Linked DNA regions of Homo sapiens. The protein of the gene in region 4 purifies or fractionates together with the protein of the main gene of each other region. This does not show direct contact. Each region holds a gene or a part of one and is shown on either strand. Other genes may lie near its edges.

The links. The genes of interacting proteins can lie anywhere in the genome.
Region 1: the proteins of MAP3K2 (region 4) and WWTR1 purify together in Homo sapiens (affinity purification with western blotting, with the first as the bait; one study listed by BioGRID). This does not show direct contact.
Region 2: the proteins of MAP3K2 (region 4) and LSM14A purify together in Homo sapiens (affinity purification with mass spectrometry; one large-scale study listed by BioGRID and IntAct). This does not show direct contact.
Region 3: the proteins of MAP3K2 (region 4) and EPB41L2 purify together in Homo sapiens (affinity purification with mass spectrometry; one large-scale study listed by BioGRID and IntAct). This does not show direct contact.

What each region holds. Positions count from the first base shown.
Region 1 is NC_000003.12:149,521,402-149,526,603, forward strand, and holds part of WWTR1 (WW domain-containing transcription regulator protein 1), read right to left. Parts: intron 4,725-5,202; coding exon 4,612-4,724; intron 1-4,611. UniProt on the Homo sapiens protein: Transcriptional coactivator which acts as a downstream regulatory target in the Hippo signaling pathway that plays a pivotal role in organ size control and tumor suppression by restricting proliferation and promoting apoptosis.
Region 2 is NC_000019.10:34,209,426-34,214,627, reverse strand, and holds part of LSM14A (protein LSM14 homolog A), read right to left. Parts: intron 1-5,202. UniProt on the Homo sapiens protein: Essential for formation of P-bodies, cytoplasmic structures that provide storage sites for translationally inactive mRNAs and protect them from degradation. Acts as a repressor of mRNA translation. May play a role in mitotic spindle assembly.
Region 3 is NC_000006.12:130,838,223-130,842,124, reverse strand, and holds the end of EPB41L2 (band 4.1-like protein 2), read left to right. Parts: intron 1-1,526; 3' UTR 1,527-2,778; downstream 2,779-3,902. UniProt on the Homo sapiens protein: Required for dynein-dynactin complex and NUMA1 recruitment at the mitotic cell cortex during anaphase.
Region 4 is NC_000002.12:127,380,312-127,385,513, reverse strand, and holds part of MAP3K2 (mitogen-activated protein kinase kinase kinase 2), read left to right. Parts: exon of another isoform or gene 1-9; intron 10-5,202. UniProt on the Homo sapiens protein: Component of a protein kinase signal transduction cascade. Regulates the JNK and ERK5 pathways by phosphorylating and activating MAP2K5 and MAP2K7. Plays a role in caveolae kiss-and-run dynamics.

The sequences.
Region 1 (5,202 bases), on a different chromosome or scaffold from region 4:
TTCTTTTAACCAGGCTATTAAAAAGTTGTCTTCATTGATGACTTTAGGCATCATTTATAAAGGCAGTTCTGCAGACGTTTTCCCTCTTTCTGTAATACCTACACCCTACAACTATCTGCCTTTCTCACAAGCATATGAGCACAGTGCATATGAGCATGTTAAGGCTTTAAGTCTTAGAGTAAAGAAATCTTTTGTTTTCTTTAAGACACTATTTCCTAAACCCATTTAATCACCTAAACCTATTTTGGCAGTATGTGTATTCAAATAAAACTGAAGTTCTACAGAACACAGGTGAGAAAATGCTGTACTAGAGGAAAAGTAGGTGTCTGGGATATGACATGAAGAATATAGGTTCTTTATGTGTCATAGTATGGGACAGAATGCACTACTGACTTTGGTGTCATTAGATCGAGCTTTGTGGCTGTGTAAGCTTAGACACACTTAACCTGCCTGATTCTCAGTTTACCCATCTAGAAATTGGGATCATATGCTCCTTTTACAAAAGTTAGAGTAAAGTGCCATATAGTGTCTGCCACATATCCATGGCTCTGGGTGTCATTGATATATACAAAGTTATATACATACAAAAATATAATAAATGTTCATTGTCCTGAGAGAAAGAAAAACCCAGGTCTTCAGCCACTATTAATTACACAATATCAAAACAACAGGTTAATTCAAAAAGTCCCAAACAATTTTCTGAAGAGATAATATCTACTTCAAAAATTGAGAAGCATTGATAACTAAGGCCAGCTTCCACCATAACGTCATTTTTTAAAAACTTGTTAAATTATCTTTTGTGTGTTACAAGTGCAGTAGCCTTCCTGAAACGTGTGTAGGGAAGTTTCACTATTTTAAGCAAAATTGCCGAAAGTTCACTTTAGCAATCTGTGTTTTCCAGGGAGAAAAATTATATCCTTCCAAATGATGAAGGAACCATCATCCAATTTGGATTTTGGTGATAGCAAAACACAATGGCTTTTCTAGAAGTCACAAAATATAAATGACTCCTGGGTAACATTTTACAGTATTTTCATTGCAAAGGGTAGTAAACTGAAAAATTAAATCAAATTCAACAATATGACCTCAATATAGTGTTACTGATATTGAAAAATAACGTTAAACGAAAAAACAAAATCCAAAATAACTTTCTTCTACTTACTAGAGTGTAACAGATAAAAATGAGGCTTTAAAAAGTGTCTAAAAAACAATCTGATCTAATGTGCTGGATGCCTTTTTTTCTCTTCATCTCCAGTTAGAATCATTCATTTTTACTAATTTCCCATTTTAACTTTCAGATACTCAAGAATATAATTTTTAGCCAAGCAAAATCTCTGTTTTAAAGAATTCCTAGGCCGGGTGTGGTGGCTCATGCCTGTAATCCCAGCACTTTGGGAGGCCGAGGTGGGTGGATCACCTGAGGTCAGGAGTTCAAGAACAGCCTTGCCAACATGGTGAAACCCTGTCTCTACTAAAAATACAACAAACAAACAAACAAAAAAACCCCAAAAAAACAGTGCCAGGCATGGTGGCGCACCCCTGTAATCCCAGCTACTCAGGAGGCTGAGGCCCGAGACTCGTTTGAATCCAGGAGGTAGAGGTTGCAATGAGCTGAGATCACACCACTGCACTCCAGCCTGGGTGACAGAATGAGACCCCGTATTAAAAAAAAAAAAAAAAATTACTCTTATCCTTTCTTCTCAGGATGGAAGGCATGAGGATACTGGCTAAGCTTCTTCATTAAAGTTAACAATCTTAAAATAGAAGCAGCTCTGCAATCTCATAGTAATCTTTTTGGTCTTTGCAGTTTATCCACTTAAAAAGTGGAAGAGACAAACACAAGGCAATTCTTTTTTTTTTTTTTGAGATGGAGTTTCGCTCTTGCTGCCCAAGCTAGAGTGCAATGGCACAATCTCGGCTCACTGCAACCTCCGCCTCCTGGGTTCAAGTGATTCTCCTGCCTCAGCTTCCCGAGTGGCTGGGATCACAGGCATGTGCCACCACGCCCAGCTAATTTTGTATTCTTAGTAGACACAAGATTTCTCCATGTTGGTCAGGCTGGTCTTGAACTCCCAACCTCAGGTGATCCACCCACCTCGGCCTACCAAAGTGCTGGGATTACAGGTGTGAACCACCGTGCCCAGCCACAAGGCAATTCTTAAAAGGGTGTGATTACTGCAGAATATTCTGGAAGGATGGATGATTTCCCAGCCTTTGCTCATGTTATTCCCTTTACTGGATCTTCGCACCAAGCCCAGCTGTTGCTGCCATGTATGTTTTGCAAATGGAGTGCTCAGCTGGCTCGTTTCCCTTCAGCATGTGGCCAGCGCGTGGTCCACAGGCCTGATAGATCTTTTCTAGCCACACTTGAGCTCTGCCTGCCCCCACAGCTTCCCTCATTTTGCTACTGTATAATTAACATTTCTCCCCTTGAGAAGATGTATGTCCAGTTCCTACAAAGACTTCACAGAGGTGGCCCCACACTCAATGAGCTGACTCTAACTTAACCAGGTTAACTTGGCACTCACATTCCCACACTCAATGAGCTGATTCTCACTTAACCAGGTTAACGTGGCACTCTGACATTATCAAGTCCATTGTATGTATGACATCAGTCTTCTTACTGGAGAAGAGCACTTTGAGCTGGTCTCTGTGATCTCATGACTCCTCACAACTCTGCCGTGAGCATATCACTCCCACTTTATGGGTGAGAAATCTGAGGCTCACGGAGGTTATGCAACTTACCCAAAGGCGCTACTAGGAATGGAGAAGCAAGGATTCAAATCAGGCTGCCTGTTGGCTAAAACTATGTTCTTTTCAGGACGTCATTTAATTCCACATTACGGCTTCAAAATAAAACACTCCCTACTTACCCACTTGAGGTTATTTTAAAGAGACATAGAGTAGAATCCATCCTCTTTTATGGTTTTTTTTTTTTTTTTTTGAATGTCAAACTTAGATTTAGATCTCCTGAGCTTTTTTCCTTAACTTTGCTTTTTATCCTTACTGGCTTCCCAGTGTTTAGAAGATGAAAGTAAAGAATTATTAAACATAGGAAGGAGCCACTTCCTAAGGCTATTCCAAAGATAGCAAAATAAATCTCACACTCAAAAAGCAGAGAGAGAGATAAAGGTGGCAGGGGGTGGTGGTGGGGGAAGAACTGAAGTAATAAACTGAAGAACAGTAAAACAATCAGTGCAAACTATTCCTGTGTCACTCCTCACAAGATAGTCTTTGCAATCTTCTCAATGCAAAGATGACAACCTACACGAAAGACGCCAGGGGAGCAGCTTTAATGTACTGCATTTGTAAGACACCTGGCTATGAGTTTGACTCTTGATCTTTCCAACAATTTAGACTCACAACACAAAGAGAAGCCATCAAAGAGTAGAGTGTAAAAAACTACAGGCACTATGGCAAACACTTTGGGGGAAGGAATTTTTTATTTTCAACACAAAACAATTACTTTCGTCAATGATAATGGAGAAGGAACTTTCATGAATAACTCCAAATAGTGGACACCCTGGCTGTCATTTATTTTTGGTTCTAGAATATCTTCTTAGAGTTTATGACTTTCATAATTAAGTCTAGGTAAGGCTAATAAGACTAACTTCAGTTTCTGCAATTGGAAGTCTCACTCCTTGAGAAAAGGAGAAAAAGAAAGGTAATCGGGAAGCCTGGTGAGGCTGGACCTGAAGGATGCACAGGCTGGGGACAAGGTAAGAGTAACCCTGACTCTCTTCTCTTTAATTCCTGAGGGAGGATGTCGTTACCATGTTGGAACTTGGAAGTGACAATTTTGAATCCTCTGAGTTGCTCAGCATTCCAAATACCCACTGCCAATTGCTTTTCAAATGCAGTGAATGACATGAAAAAAATTGGATACTAGAACTATAAACCAGTGTCACTTTCCAGGAGAAAGGGTGGCCCATATATTACAACTAAAAACTAGAACAGCATAAATACCCCAATGTGGAAACATGGCAAACAAACAGTGGTGTCTTGATGCAATTGTGAGGAAGGGACTATATGGAGCAAAGATGAATTAAAAAAAAAAAACAACAGAATTTAAAATCCTGCGCCCAGATGTAAAACTATACTTGTATAATCTATGAGGAAGGGGCTACAGTTTATTAATAGTGCCTGGGGGTTCAGTGGCTTTTCAGCTGTTATTTTATGTTGTCGTTGAGATTGAGTGTTTCTGGTTGGATTTTAAAATTGAGATGACCGTACTCGCTCTGGCAGCACCTATACTAAAACTGGAATGATTAGCATGGCCCCTGCATGAGAATGACATGTAAATTCATGAAGCATTCCATTTTTTTTTTTTTCAACATTTTTACAGACACTCGGGACTACTGGGAGTGGGGAGGAACAAGGGGTGAAAAACAAACTATTGGGTACTATGCTCACTACCTGGGTGACGAGAGCAATCGTATCCCAAACCCCGGCATCACATAACCATGTAGCAAACCTGCACATGTACCCCCAAATATAAAATAAAAGTTGAAATTATAAAAATAAAATAAAAGAAAAATAAAATTGAGATAACCGAAGAGATCATTTAAAAAACACAAACCCATTGTAAGTGCTTGCAGGCTTTGCTCCTACCTGTATCCATCTCATCCACATTGCTGAGGAAGTCCTCCGGAGTTGTGGGGACACTGTAGCACCCTAACCCCAGGCCACTGTCAGTGCTCTGCTCCCTCGAATGATATGGCCCTCTGCAAAGCAAAAGATGAAGAAACTTCAATATGAGCCCACTAAATAAATCTCAAAATTAAAACACAGTCACAAAAGCTCTAAACTAGTGCAGTTGTGCCATGCTGCCCAACTTTCCAGGTTAGGGAGGAAGGAAAGTTTTAATTTTGAAATACATACCCTCATGAAAATGAAAATAATCATGTGTGGCCATTCACAGTAAATTGACATTGATTTCCTTTTCACCTCAAAATAACCATTTGAACATTCTTCAACATACAGAGTATGACACCATTTATGTAAAACTTTAAAAAAAAAAAACAAAAACTATGTTGAATATTGCTTATGGATACATACACTAACGGGCAGTAAGGGGTATAAAAGTCTGTGTGATGGACACACGCCAGTTTCTGAATAGTGGCTACCACTGGGGACAGAAGGGAAAAGAAACGAGATTTCAGTGGTGGGGGGATGGCTTCAAATATTAATTGTAATATTTTA
Region 2 (5,202 bases), on a different chromosome or scaffold from region 4:
CTATTATAAGAAAGTAAAGGGCCGGGCGCAGTGGCATATGCCTGTAATCCTAGTCCTTTGGGAGGCTGAAGCAGGAGGATCGCTTGAGCCCAGGATTTCAAGACCAGCCTAGGCAACATGGCGAAACCCTGTCTCTACTGAAAATACAAAAATTAGCCAGGCGTGGTGGCGCGTGCCTGTGTTCCCAGCTACTCAGGAGGCTGAGATGGGATAGCTTGAACCCGGGAGGCAGAAGCTGCAGTGAGCCGAGATTGTGCCACTGCACTCTAGCCTAGGTGACAGAGCAAGGCCCTGTCTCATAAATAAATAAATAAATAAATAAATAAATAAATAAAGTAAAAGAACTACAAAGTTAGATAGGTGAAGTTCTTTAATGCTTTAGGGGCTTGGGTAATTAAACATAAAAACTAAAAGGCCAGCAAAAAAACAAACAAACAAAACCAAAAAACAAACAAAAAAAACCCTTCAGATAATTACACAGTAGCCATACTCATTCCTTGCCTTTTAAAAGATCTCTTGGCAAGTTTTTGCTTAATATGGGGTTTGGCTGGGCGCGGTTGCTCACACCTATAATCCCAGCAATTTGGGAGGCTGAGATGGGCAGATCGCTTGAGCTCAGGAGTTCGAGACCAGCCTGAACAACATGGCGAAAGCCTGTCTCTACAAAAAAAATACAAAAATTAGCCAGGTGTGGTGGCACATGCCTGTAACCCCAGCTACTCAGGGGGCTGAAGTGGGTGGATTGCTTGAGCCTGGGAGGCAGAGGTTGTAGTGAGCCGAGATCGGTCCACTGCATCCAGCCTGGGTGACAAAACTAGACTCTGTCTCAAAAAATACAAATATAAAAGAGCCAAAACAAAAAATGGGGTTTGTACTTATACATTATATTTTTCCTTTTATGAGGTCGCCTGGTCACAGCATGAACTGAAGAATGTAACATCGGGTGCTCCCATCATGCTTTCTGTCCTGATAATGTTTGCTGTACATCTCTGCTTAGGCACTCACATCTCATAATTATTCCAAAATATAATGTTTTGCTTAAAAAAAATGCTCATTTCACGTAAAAAAATCCCCCAAATATGCTGCAAATGTTACTGTCCATCTGTGCATATTTGCAGGTGTCAAACAACTGGTGAGTGCTGACAATGCATTATTATGTACCTAGATGATTCAGGGATAATTTATTAGTAATATTTCCCCAATTTATGATTATCTAAAGTATGCACTTACAAATGTGCAATACCATTTCAGCCATTAATGGCAAAGTTAGCCAAATAAATGATCATTTATCAAAACCCAGAAACCGACACAGGCACAATCTACTTAACATTTCAAAATTAAGTTACCACTAATAGAAGCATTACAATTTTTCCACTGGATTATAATGGGAAATCATGGTTTATGTAAGTTTTGGCCTATGAAAAAAACATTTTATAATCACTTATAAAACACATTTTGTTTTTTGTTTTTTAGGGACAGGATAGGGTCTTGTTCTGTTGCTCTGGCTGGAGTGCAGTGGCGCAATCACAGCTCGCTGCAACTTCTAACTCCTGGGACCCAATGATCTTCCTGCCTCAGCCTCTTGAGTAGCTAGGACTATAGATGTGCGCTACCACACCTTGCTAATTTTTTTTATTTCACATGTCTTCCTGAAAAAGCCTACTGCTACAGTTAATTTTATGGTACTACATTAAATCATCTTATAAGTTTATAAAACTTCTTTATCAAGGCTTTTGAGAAAAGATCCTATGGCTCACAAGTACTACAGAAGTACAAGCAATGGGGCAATCGGAGCAAGTACAGAAACATTTGTTGTGTACTTAAAAAGCCTTTTCACTATTAAGGCCTACTAATCATCATGATGCCAGTTTTGTTATAAACAGGGAAATACAGGTGATACTGTGATACTGGATACATTATTAGGAATAAATCCAGAAGTGATTTCTGCATATTATAGACACACTCCCTTGAGCTATCTTCACAATCTTATCACACTTAAAATTCTAGGAATTTTAATTTTGTGAAATTCAGCAATTTTAGTTGATAAAACTTAAATGCAAACTCTTAGGACTTGTCATTTGTCATAACTTTATGTAAATACACCTCTTTCTTTTAATAAACACATACTTCAAAATTTTTAACATTTTAATCTATTTAAAATTTATATATTTTTTGGTGCTCAGTATGAGGGAAAGAATCTAGAGTGACTTTCTCCAAATGATCAGGCAACATTATTAATTGGAACAGACAGCCTTCTCTCCACTAATTTAAAATAATACCTTTATCATCTACTAAATTCTTTTAAGATGAATTCTTGCTCTGTTGCCTAGGCTAGTGTGCAGGGCCGCAATCACAGCTTGCTGCCACCTTAACCTCCTGGGCTCAAGCAATCCTCTAGCTTCAGCCTCTCAAGCTGATAGGCGCACACATCACGCCCAACTAATTTTTAATTTTTTTAGAGACAGGGTCCTGGTATGTTGCCCAGGCTAGTCTCAAATCCCTGGCTTCCATCTTGAACTCGCAAAATGTTAGGGTTTCAGGCATGAACCACTGCACCCAGGATAAATTCTTATTTATACTCGGATCTGTTTCTGCCTGCCTATTGCTTTCTATTCATCTCTTTCTTTTTTCCTGCATTGCTACATTTTATTATCATGTCAGTAAACCCATTACTTTTATTTTTCAAATATGTCCAGCCACACTTCCATGTTTATTTTAAAGATAAACTGTTTTACTAAGTTCTCCTACTATTCTATTTGCATTGATTTTTAATTAATTTGCAATAAATTTGTTAACTATGAGGAGTAAAGTCTTCCCAACATCTTTTTTTTTTGGGGGGGGACAGGGTCTTGGTTCTGTCGCCCAGGCTGGAGTGAGGTAGTGCAGTTAGGGCTCACTGCAGCCTCGGCCTCCTGGGCTCAAGTGATCCTCCTGTCTCAGCCTCTTGAGTAGCTAGGACCACAGGTGTCCACCATCATACTCTGCTTATTTTTAAAATTTTTTGGTAGAGATGAAGTTTCACTACGTTGCTCAGGCTGGTCTCAAACTCGTGGGCTCAAGTGATCATCCTGGCTTTGCCTCCCTAAGTGCTGGTACTGTTCTTGTTCTTCTATCTAGCAATAAGATATGTTTTTTCCATTACATGCAACTTTTATGTCCCTGTCTTACATTATTTATCATAGAAGTTGGTCATATTTCTTAGTATGACCAACTTATTTCTTATTATATATTTTGTATACAATTTCTATTTTGCATTACTGTAATCATCTTTTCTCCTCATTACATAATCAATGGATTAGGCTTTAGGACTATTAAATTTTTTTTTTTTTTAAGATGGAGTCTCGCTCTGTCGCCCAAGCTGGAGTGCAGTAGCGTGATCTCGGCTCACTGCAACCTCTGCCTCCCGGGTTCTCCCACCTCAGCCTCCTGAGTAGCTGGGATTACAGGTGCACGCCACCATGCCCGGCTAATTTTTGTATTTTTAGTAGAGATGGGGTTTCACCATGTTGGTTGGCCAGGCTGGTCTCGAACCCCTGACCTCAGGCGATCCGCCTGCCTTGGCCTCCCAAAGTGCTGGGATTACAGGCATGAGCCATCGTGCCCGGCCAGAACTATTGACTTTTGTATATTTAATTTACATTTTGCCTGTGCCTAATTTAAGTTCCTTATTAGTTCTCATTCTTCATGAATAATGCTAATTTCAATATTTATGCTTCTTTTTCATGTGTTCCTGATTTAACTAAAAATTCCAGAATAGGCCGGGCACTGTGGCTCATGCCTATAATCCCAGCACTTTGGGAGGCCAAGGTGGGTGGATCACTTGAGCCCAGGAGTTCCAGACCAGCCTTGGCAACATGGCGAAACCCCGTCCCTACAAAACTAGCTGGTGGTGCTTGCTTGTGATCTCAGCTAATTGGGAGGATGGCCTGAGCTCAGGAGGTAGAGGCTGCAGTGAGCCATGATCACACCACTGCATTCCAGTCTGGGAGACAGAGCAGGACCCTATCTCAAAAAACAAACAAACAATCTTTAGAATGTTTAAAAATTAAGCAAGTAGGCTGGACGCAGTGGCTCACATCTACAATCCCAGCACTTTGGGAGGCCAAGGCAGGTGGATCACTTGAGGTCAGGAGTTTGAGACCAGCCTGGCCAACATCACGAAACCACATCTCTACCAAAAATACAAAAAAATGAGCTGGGCGTGGTGGCACGTGCCTGTAATCCCAGCTATTTGGGAGGGTGAGGCAGGAGAATCGCTTGAACCTGGGAGGTGGAGGTTGCAGTGAGCCGAGATTGTGCCACTGCACTCCAGTCTGGGTGACAGAGCAAGACTCCATCTTAAAAGAAAAAAAAAAAGAAAAAAATTAAGCTAATCAATATGAGTAACAGTAAGAACTATTTCAAAATATCTTAAGTGAAATACATAAGATTATGTTTAGCATTGAATTTTTACCCTTAATAGCTTTTTAAAATACTGTCTTGTGACTATAGGTCTTTCTGAAATGACTCAACATTGTTTTACTTAAAAACAAAACAAAACAAAAACCATTCATATAAAGCAATGAGCCAAAAATACCCATTTCTAAAGTGCATAAAAATAGATAAGGAAAAGCCGAGCATGGTGGCACAAGGCTGTAGCCCCAGCTACTGGGGAAGCTAAAGTGGGAGGCTTGTTTGGGGCCAGGTGTCCAAGGCTGCAGTGCACTATGATCACATCTGTAAATAGCCACTGCATTTCAGTTTGGGCAGCATAGTGAGACCTATCTTTAAAAAAAAAAAAAAAGCCAGGCCCAATGGCTCACGCCTGTAATCCCAACATCCCAACACTTTGGGGAGGCCAAGGCAAATGGATCGCTTGAGCCCAGGAGTTCGAGACCAGCCTGGGCAATACAGGGAGACCTCATCTCTAATAAGTAAATAAAAGAAAGAAAAAGATTAAGAAAAAAGGAAGAAACAAAGATAAGAATAAAAGGTATGGATAACCATTTAAAATTATGAGACTGGCTGGTTGAAGAGCAGAATCTTAAGAAATAAAACAATCCTTTAAGAAGCTTATTAAAATATAAATCCTCAGGCTCCAGGGATTCTGATGTATAAGTCTCAGGATTTAAATTTTTAAGAAGCACCCCAGATGATTCAGTTGTGGGTAGCCTACACTGAGAACCACTACTCTCCATCCTGTGAGGATGTTAGGGAAAATGT
Region 3 (3,902 bases), on a different chromosome or scaffold from region 4:
TTAATTTTACCTAACCAAAAGAGTGTACATTCTAATTGACTTTGGGAGCAGTGTCTCTTGGAAAAGACGTTAATTACCACTCTGCACTGTCCTTTGTGATTACCTATCATTTGCCAAAACTTCCAACCAAGTTCAAATATAAAATGAAACAATTGCCACCTTAAAACCCTTTTCTCTTTCAGGGCCATTGCACCATCATGGGTTTTTTAAAAAGTCTTCTCCACTTACCTTTGATTGTGGACTTCTGCAAGACTCTGTGGCTTTCATTTATTCCTATGCTCACATGAGACTTAGTTCTATCTGTTGGTTTCACTTATCCCTTGTTCTGATGCCCAAATCTATATCCCTAGGTCTAATGCTTCACCCAGGCTGTAAGCCTTCATTCTCTCCTTTTTTTGAGGTCCCAGACTCCAAACCTTATCATCCTGTCTTATACTTACTTCTTAACCACCACACTCTGATTATTCTCCTTAGTGGTGCCTCTCAAATTTCTCTCCCACCTGATTTCTGTGGTGACCACTCAAGTCTGGGTCCTGGCCATCTGGCAGGAATGCCTGACATTTGTCATCTTCCTCATCCAGCTGGACTCCTGCACTGGTCTCCTGACTGTTGTTCCTGCCTCTACTCCTTGCCGGCTTCAGCTTATTCATCACACTGAAGCCACAGCAGTGTTTTCAAAACGTAAATCACACCATGACAAACCCTTCCTCAAAACCAAAGAAGAAACGATCCCAACCTCCTTTCCTGGGCTTATCATGCCCTGCATGACTGGCCAACCCCAAGTTCTTTGACCAGTCTTCTATCTCTCTGTGGCTCTTGCACTCTGCCCTGGACCATTGTAGTAGATTGCCAACTGGTCTTTTCGTCCAAATGTTTTTTCTTAATTCATTTTTTTTTTTTTTTGGTCAATTAGATCAAGCTGGTACTTCTCAGTCTATTAAAGAATAGACCTAATATTTTGTACCTTTATTTACTACTCACTATACCAATGCTCAACTTTAGTAATGTCCCTTTCTTCACCGTCCTATTCCTTCCATTCGTTTCTGCCTCCTCCCCCAACATACATCTTACTGTCATAATACTGTGTACTTCTTCACCTCCATGCCTCTTTCCTCATTGTGTTTTTCCACCTGAAGCACCATTTCCATTCGTTTTAGCACAAAGAAAATAGACTTTGACTTTCCCTTTCCCTGAGTATAGCTTTAAAACCTACCTTGGTTTCTGTCTTTAAATTCTTACATATGAATTGTCTCTGTTTTATGCTAATAAATTCTTTTGCAGTGAACTCTTATTTGCCAGTTGCTTCTAGCGTACTTGTCAATTCTCCAGGTATTTTAAGGCCCTCGAGAGTGGAATAGTGTCTCATGCTTGTCTTCTGGTAAACATACTATTTAATGTAAGACTAGGCAGACAGTAACTGTTGATTACTTGATTGAAAACTTGATGAATGTTACTTAACATTTTTTTCAAGCCTGTGTTTTTGGAATATTTAAGCCTTCTGTTTTTTTTTTTTTTTTCTCTTCTAGAAAGTCATTTTTTAAACAACACTCAACTTTGTGAACCCCTGAAGATTTTTTGACCGTTCCAAGTCTTAATGCCACACCACTATTCCAGCGAATTTATGCTACAACTGGTAACAATGACCAGAAGCCTGAAGAATTAAAATGCCAACACCAAACCTTTCCTTACCAGCTCTGGTCTATATTGCTCCCATGCATTTAATATATTATTTTGTTTTATAACCACTTCTAAATATTCTCAGTTCTTTCTTTTTGTTGTTGTTAATTAAGGGGTTTTGGTTTTGTTTTCTGTTTACTTTGTGTGCAACTACCTGCTTTTAATGACTCACTTTGATCAAATGACAGTGAACAAAGCCAGCCCAAGCTGGTAAGGTGCTGTTCACTTGAACAGGTGCTGTTGCGCAGAAAGGAAACTCTGTGACTAATTTAGATAGTGGCTTTCCTTCTTCTGGATTCTTTTCATTGAATTCTCACAGTAAATATTTACGGAGTTTTCAAATTGCAGCAAATATACTGTATGAGAAAATATTAATACAGATTAAAAGCCTTTCTTACATCTTGAAAATTTTCTAATATTTGAGAATTTCACAGGGATGTTTTTTATATTGGACCCTTTTGACTTTCCAGTCCTGTGACTTTCTACTTTTAGTAGAGAGTCAGAATCTCTGGACTGGAGAATAATGAAGAAGTTCACTGACTGTGCACTGTGCTTAGAGACCCTGCCGCACCACAGTGCCAATGCTTGTCAGACACATGCCCTTCGGCAGCATTCCAGAACAGGAGGGAAGAGAAAGAGAAAACTTTCTTCCCTTCTACTAAAAGATTCAGGCAGCTTAAAACCTTAGTGCTTTCTTTCTTAACATACCCACATTTCAATTCTTTCCATTATTTGAACACTTGGGTAGAACTCTTGCTTTGTATTAAACCTCTTTGTCTACACATGTAAAACTTACCTTTTGTTATTGAGCAGGCCTATCTCTTTCAGATAGTTTTATGATTCACACAGGTTTGAGGATGCTGGGGAGAGGGGGAGGGGGCTGTGGTGGTGTTCTGTTGGTTACAAGAAAGTTATACCATTTAAAGCTGGCACCAGAGACCCGATAGGGACTTATTAACTATATTGAACATTTTTTCCTTTGCCTTTGACCCTATGTATAGTTACGATGCCAGATTAGATTTATAGCAGCCTCAAGTTGTATTAAATGATATTTTGCTTCCTGTAATACTATTATAAAATAAAGTTTGTTTATTCTCTAAACTTGTCACTTCTCTTTTTCTAAAGGGTTAAAAAAACAAACTTGAGTGATATTTTTCATCAGAAGTCTTAGTATTTTGTGAAAAGTAGCATTTCAAAATCTGTTTTCAGCTCTTCTGTAATTTGATGATGCTGCCAACATCACTATTTGAAACGGTGAAAGCGACGTTGAAAGTTTGTAAATCTAATGTTGAGAGTGCCAGATTCCTTCTGCCTGGTTACATAATCCATTCCAGCTTTTACGAATTCTCCGAGGGATATTTTTGCTTGTTTTCTTTGTGCATTTTTCATTTTGTTTTCAGGAAATATTTTAGCTGTACCATCTGAATCTTGCTCCTCTGCTTCATGTCCTTCTTTACTTTGTGTCCACTGGCCCTCTGTATATCAGGCAAACTAGGCCACTGAGGGGCTGCATCCCAGTCTGATTGGGATGCTTTCTTGTGAAACTTTTGTTGGGGCACACCAGGTTATGGTGTTATTATAGAGCAAATAACCAACAGGGTACATTTCTTGTAAAGTGTTATATAGAATTTTTTTCTCTAGTCATTTAAAGTAAGTACATTAAATACAATTTGCATAACTGTCGTCTTTGAGATCTGTTTCCACTAAATTATCTCTCGCCTTGTGAAAGGCCTTTCTCACTTTCTCTATAATTATTACAAAAACAACAACTCCCTGGAGAATCCGATTCAGCAAGCCAAGCCTTAGAAATATTGTGGAACCAAATGTGATTTTGCAAATGTATGCCTCATCAGAAAGTTTGTATAACACTCACATTGAAATCATAGGTTGCGCTTCCCTGGGTGTTTTGAAGACCATATTTGCAGTGACAGGAAGAAAGTTTGTCTTCACAGGTCCCATGGACTAAGAAAGGTGGTGTGCGGGGATTAGGGCTCGGTTTTATTTAGCTGAGACAGCAAGAACAGGGTTTAGGGTCCTGGGGGCATTGAGAGAATCTATGGGAATTAATACCCACAGAGCCACTTGAAACAATGTTTATACTTATTCCCACCTGTAGCTACAGGAGCAAGGCTGTCTTTTAAAAAAATATTTTGTATTATAAAGTATTTCTCTGGCTGTTATAATCTCATCTGGTAAATTGGGCTAAATGATAGAATAAATAGGAA
Region 4 (5,202 bases):
GGAAAAGAAGTGAGTCACATAAACTTTTTAGTTTCACGGTGCATATAGTTATGTTTACAATATACTGTAGTCTATTGTGTGCAATGGCATTATGTCTAAAAAAAGTATATACCTTAATTAAAAAATTATTTATTGCTAAAAATTTCTAAAGAAATTTGAGCCTTTAGGGAATTGTAATCTTTTTGCTGGTGGAGGGTCTTGCCTCCATGTTGATGGCTGCTGACTAGTAAGGATGGTTGATAAGGGGTGGTTGTTGAAGTTTGGGATGGCTGAGGCAATTTCTTAAAGTAAGACATTAGTGAAGTTTGCCGCATCGATGGACTCTTCCTTTCAGGAAAGATTTCACTCTGGCATGTGATACTGTTTGATAACATTTTACTCACCATAGAACATTTTTCAAAATTGGAGTCAGTCCTTTCAAACCCTTCATCAACTAATTGCTTATCACCTATCATCTAAGTTGCTTATCGTTGCTTTATCAACTAAGTTTTTGTAATCTAAGTCCTTTGTTGCTACTTCAATAATATTCACATCATCTTCACTAGGAGTAGATTCCATCTCAAGAAGCCACTTTCTGTCCAGGCGTAATGGGGTCACGCTTATAATCCCAGCAGTTTGGGAGGCTGAGGCAGGAGGATTGCTTGCGCCAAGGAATTCAAGAACAGCGTGGGCAACATGGCAAAATCCCATTAAAAAAATATAGAGGTTAGCCGGTTGTGGTGATTTGGGAAGCTGAAGCAGGGAGAGTGCTTGAGCCGGGGAGGGGAGGTCAGGGCTGCAGTGAGCTGTGGCAGTGCAGACCAGCCTGGGCAACAGAGCAAGACCCTGTCTTAAAAAAAAAAAAAGGCCACTTTGTTTCCTCATCCATAAGAAGCAACTTTTCATCTGTTCAAGTTTTAGCTCTGCTTCTAATTGTAGTTCTCTTGCTCTTTCCGTCACATCTACAGTTACTTCCTCCACTGAAGTCTTAAACCCCTCAAAGTCATCCATGAGGGCTGGAATCAGCTTCTTCCAAATTCCTGTTAATGTTGATATTTTGACCTCCTCCCATGAATCATCAGTGTTCTTAATGGCATCTAGAATGATGAATCCTTTCCAGAAGGTTTTCAATTTACTTTGCTCAGATCTGTCAGAAGAATCTGATCACTGTCTATGGTAGTTATAGCCTTACAAAATGTATTTCGTTTGTTTTTCTTTTTTTAGTTTCACAGTGCGTATAAAGTTATGTTTACAATATACTGTAGTCTGTTAAGTGTGCAATGACATTCTAAAAAAGCAATATATATATATATATATATATCAATTAAAAATTATTTGTTGGCCGGGCACGGTGGCTCACGCCTGTAATCCCAGCACTTTGGGAGGCCGAGGCGGGCAGATCACGAGGTCAGGAGATCAAGACCATCCTGGCTAACAGGATGAAACCCCGTCTTTACTAAAAATACAAAACAAACAAACAAACAAAAAAAACCACTAGCCGGGCATGGTGGCGGGTGCCTGTAGTCCCAGCTACTCGGGAGGCTGAGGCAGGAGAATGGCGTGAACCCGGGAGGTGGAGCTTGCGGTGAGCAGAGATGGCGCCACTGCACTCCAGTCTGGGTGACAGAGCGAGACTCCATCTCAAAAAAAAAAAAAAAAATTATTTGTTGCCAAAAAAATGCTAGAAGAACATCTGAGCCTGGCTCAGGCTAGCCTAATTTTTTTATTTTTATTTCTATTTTTAGAGTTAGCATCTCAATGTGTTGCTCAGGCTGGTTGCAAACTCTTTGCCTCAGATGGTCCTCCCACTTTGGCCTCCCAAAATGTTGAGATTACAGGCATGAGCCACTGTCCTGGCTGTATTTCTTAAATTAGGAAATGCATCCAAGTTGGAAAAGTCAAAATACCCTATTCCCTGATGACATGATCTCTGTCATATTTAGAAAAACCTAAGGATGCCACCAAAAACCTCTTGAATTTGACAAATAATCCAGTAAAGTGTCAATACAAAATCAGTGTACAAAAATGAGGAGCATTTCTATACACCAATGACGATCCAACTGAAAACTAAATCAAGAAAGCAATCTTCAAAAAAAGAAAAAATCCACCTAGAAATGTATTTAACCAAGGAGGTAACAGATCTCTATAAGGAGAACTACAAAGTCCTGATGTAAGAAATTCTAGATGACACAGACAAACGGAAAAACATCCCATACTCGTTGATTGGAAGAATCAGTTTTGTCAAAGTGACCATACAACCTGATATGGGTTGTTTATTTGTCTCCTCCAAGTCTCATGTTGAAATGCAATCCCCAGTGTTGGAAGTGGGGCCTGGTGGGAGGTGACTGGATCATGGGGGTGGGTGCCTCATGAATGGCTTAGCAGCGTCCCCTTGATGATGAGCAAGTTCATGTGAGATCTGGTTGTTTAAAAATGTGTGGCATCTCTCCACTCTCTCACTTGCTCCTGCTCTTGCCAAGTGAGGTCCTTGCTCCCACTTTGCCTTATGTCATGAGACCTCACCAGAGGCCAAGCAGGTGCCAGCACCATGCTTCCAGTCCAGCTTGCTGAACCGTGAGCCAATTAAACCTCTCTTCTTTATAAATTACCAAGCCTGAGGTTTTTCTTAAGAGCAATGCAAGAATGGCCTAATACACTACTCAAAGCAATCTGCAGATTGAAGGCAACCCCTATCAATATACCGACATCTGCTGGGTAGAGTGGCTCATGCCTGTAATCCCAGCACTTGGGGAGGCCAAGGCAGGCGGATCACCTGAGGTCAGGAGTTTAAGACCAGCCTGACCAACATGGTGAAACCCTGTCTCTACTAAAAATACAAAAATTAGTGGGACGAGGTGCCAGTAGTCCCAGATACTTGGGAGGCTGAGGCAGGAGAACTGCTTGAACCCAAGAGATGGAGGCTGCAGTAAGCCAAGATCGTGCTGCTGCACTTCATCCTGGGCAATAGAGTGAGTCAATTTGTAAGAAAACACATTATTATCTGTGAAGCACAATGAAAAGTGAAATAAAACAAGGTATACCTCTACTGAAAGAAGAAAACTATCAAACTAGAATTCTAGATCCTGGAACTATGTATTTCAAAAATAAAGGAGAAATAAACACTTCCAGATATCTTTTTTTAAAAAACACTATGAAGCAGAATAAAATGAAGCTCAATAAAATGAGATATACTTGTATATTATTTTCAGCTGAACTCTTTGAAACTAAGCTATGGACATTATGACATTTTACCTCTCAATATGTCACATGCATCTCCTAAAGTTAAGGACATTTTCTTACATAGCCAAAATACCATTATTGTTACTTTTCTTAGGTGCGATACTTCTTTCATATACTCTAATATATATCCATATTTACATCTCATTCGTACTGAATTGTCATTTGTGGTTTGTACACCCATCCCCACCAAATCAGGATTTCATCAAAGTTTATTCATTGCATTTAGTTGTTAAGGCTTTTTGATCTCTTATAGTCTACAGCAGTCTCACCTCTTACACCCTTTAAAAATGACAATGATTTTTTTTAAGAGATCAAGACAGTTGTCTTATAAAGTGACTCATATTCTCGATTTGTCAGATTCCACCCCCCTCCCCCCGTCATAGCATTGTTTAGCTTGTTCCTGTATTCCCCCATACCAGTTGTTAAGTGTAAACTAGATTTAAAGGGTCGATTAGTTTTAATTTCAACATTTTGGACAAGAATACCTAATAAGTGATTTAATATATTTTATATGCCTCCCATTAGGAGACGTACACTGTGCAGTCCCATTATTTGTGATACTAAGTTTGATTGCTTGGTTGAGAGGAGTAAGGTGAGGTATATTTTTCTCACTGCAGTCAGCAAGTAATCTGTGGCATGATAAATTAGCACTGTAATGCTAGCCTGTTCTCCAGTGATCTTTTACCTAATAGTTGTGGTATCTTTTGCTGATCCTTGTCAGGCTAACTTTTAAATTTCAGTGTTAATAAATGTTTGTTGGTCTATAGATGGAAACAAATCACAGGAATTAAAAAATATCCAGCTAGGTTAATCAGAATCTGATTTTGTGGATTTTAAAGATTTTAACAAAGTATTCAAAGTATCGTTTGTTACGAATTTTATAAGAAACCTGGCTTGAAAAATGGGAATAACTCAATGCTGGTCTTCTGTACTCTTAAGAAGTGCATTTAAATTTTTCTTAGATAACATCTACTGCACAAGAATAACCCAGAAATACAATATAAAGGAAGGGTGGATCTACTAAAATACATTTTGAGAAAATTGTCTATTTTCTGATGTAATGGGAGGAACACTGGATTGAGAGTCAGAAGATCATTCCTACCATTATATGAAGTTTAAGAATTACAAATTTTTGAGCTGGGCTGTGTGGTGCATGCCTCAACTACTCAGGAGGTTAAGGCAGGAGAATCCCTTTAGCCCAGGAGTTGGAGGGCATCCTGGGCAACATAGCAAGACCCTGTATCAAAAATCAGGAAAAAAAGAAGGATAAATTTTTAAACTTTACTGCATGTTCTTATTTCATAGTGATTGCTTTAGTAAACATTTATGAATAAAGAATGAATTTCTGATGAGATATGTTTGTAGTGAACTTCATTTTTATGAAGCCAGTTATAAGTAAATCAAATGTATGTAATACAAAATTGAACTTAAAAAACCTTTCCTCTTATTCTCAAAGTGTTGTGTGAGATGTATCTATATATCTATATCTACACACACTTAACAAGAAATGTTAAGTTTGTCTTTTGTCTTGGATATTCCTGGGATTGATTTGGAACATTGGTTGACTATATTTCTCTTGGTAGTTAATTACATGGTTGCTTTGTAATATTTCTTGTATTGTTGCCTTTATTGTTACTTAACTCTTAGGTTAAAGAGTTAAGATTAGGTCTTAACTCTTACTTTGTTGTTGTTGTTTATACCTTGCCTTCCCAACTAATAGGAGGATAGGGTTAGAATCTTTAGATTCCCTACTGTCACTAGCTTACTGGTTTTCTTACAAGTGGTCAACAATTATTTGTTTGAGATTCATAGTACCATAAATTTAAAAAGCACTACGAGGTTTATAAACTTTGGAATTTTTTCCATTTGTGTGGTTAGTCATTTAGTGTGAACTTTAATAGTTAATAATGACAAAAGAATAGTTTAATATATTTTATCGGTATTCTTTGGATCATTCTCAAATTAGGTCCCTTTATTGTCACT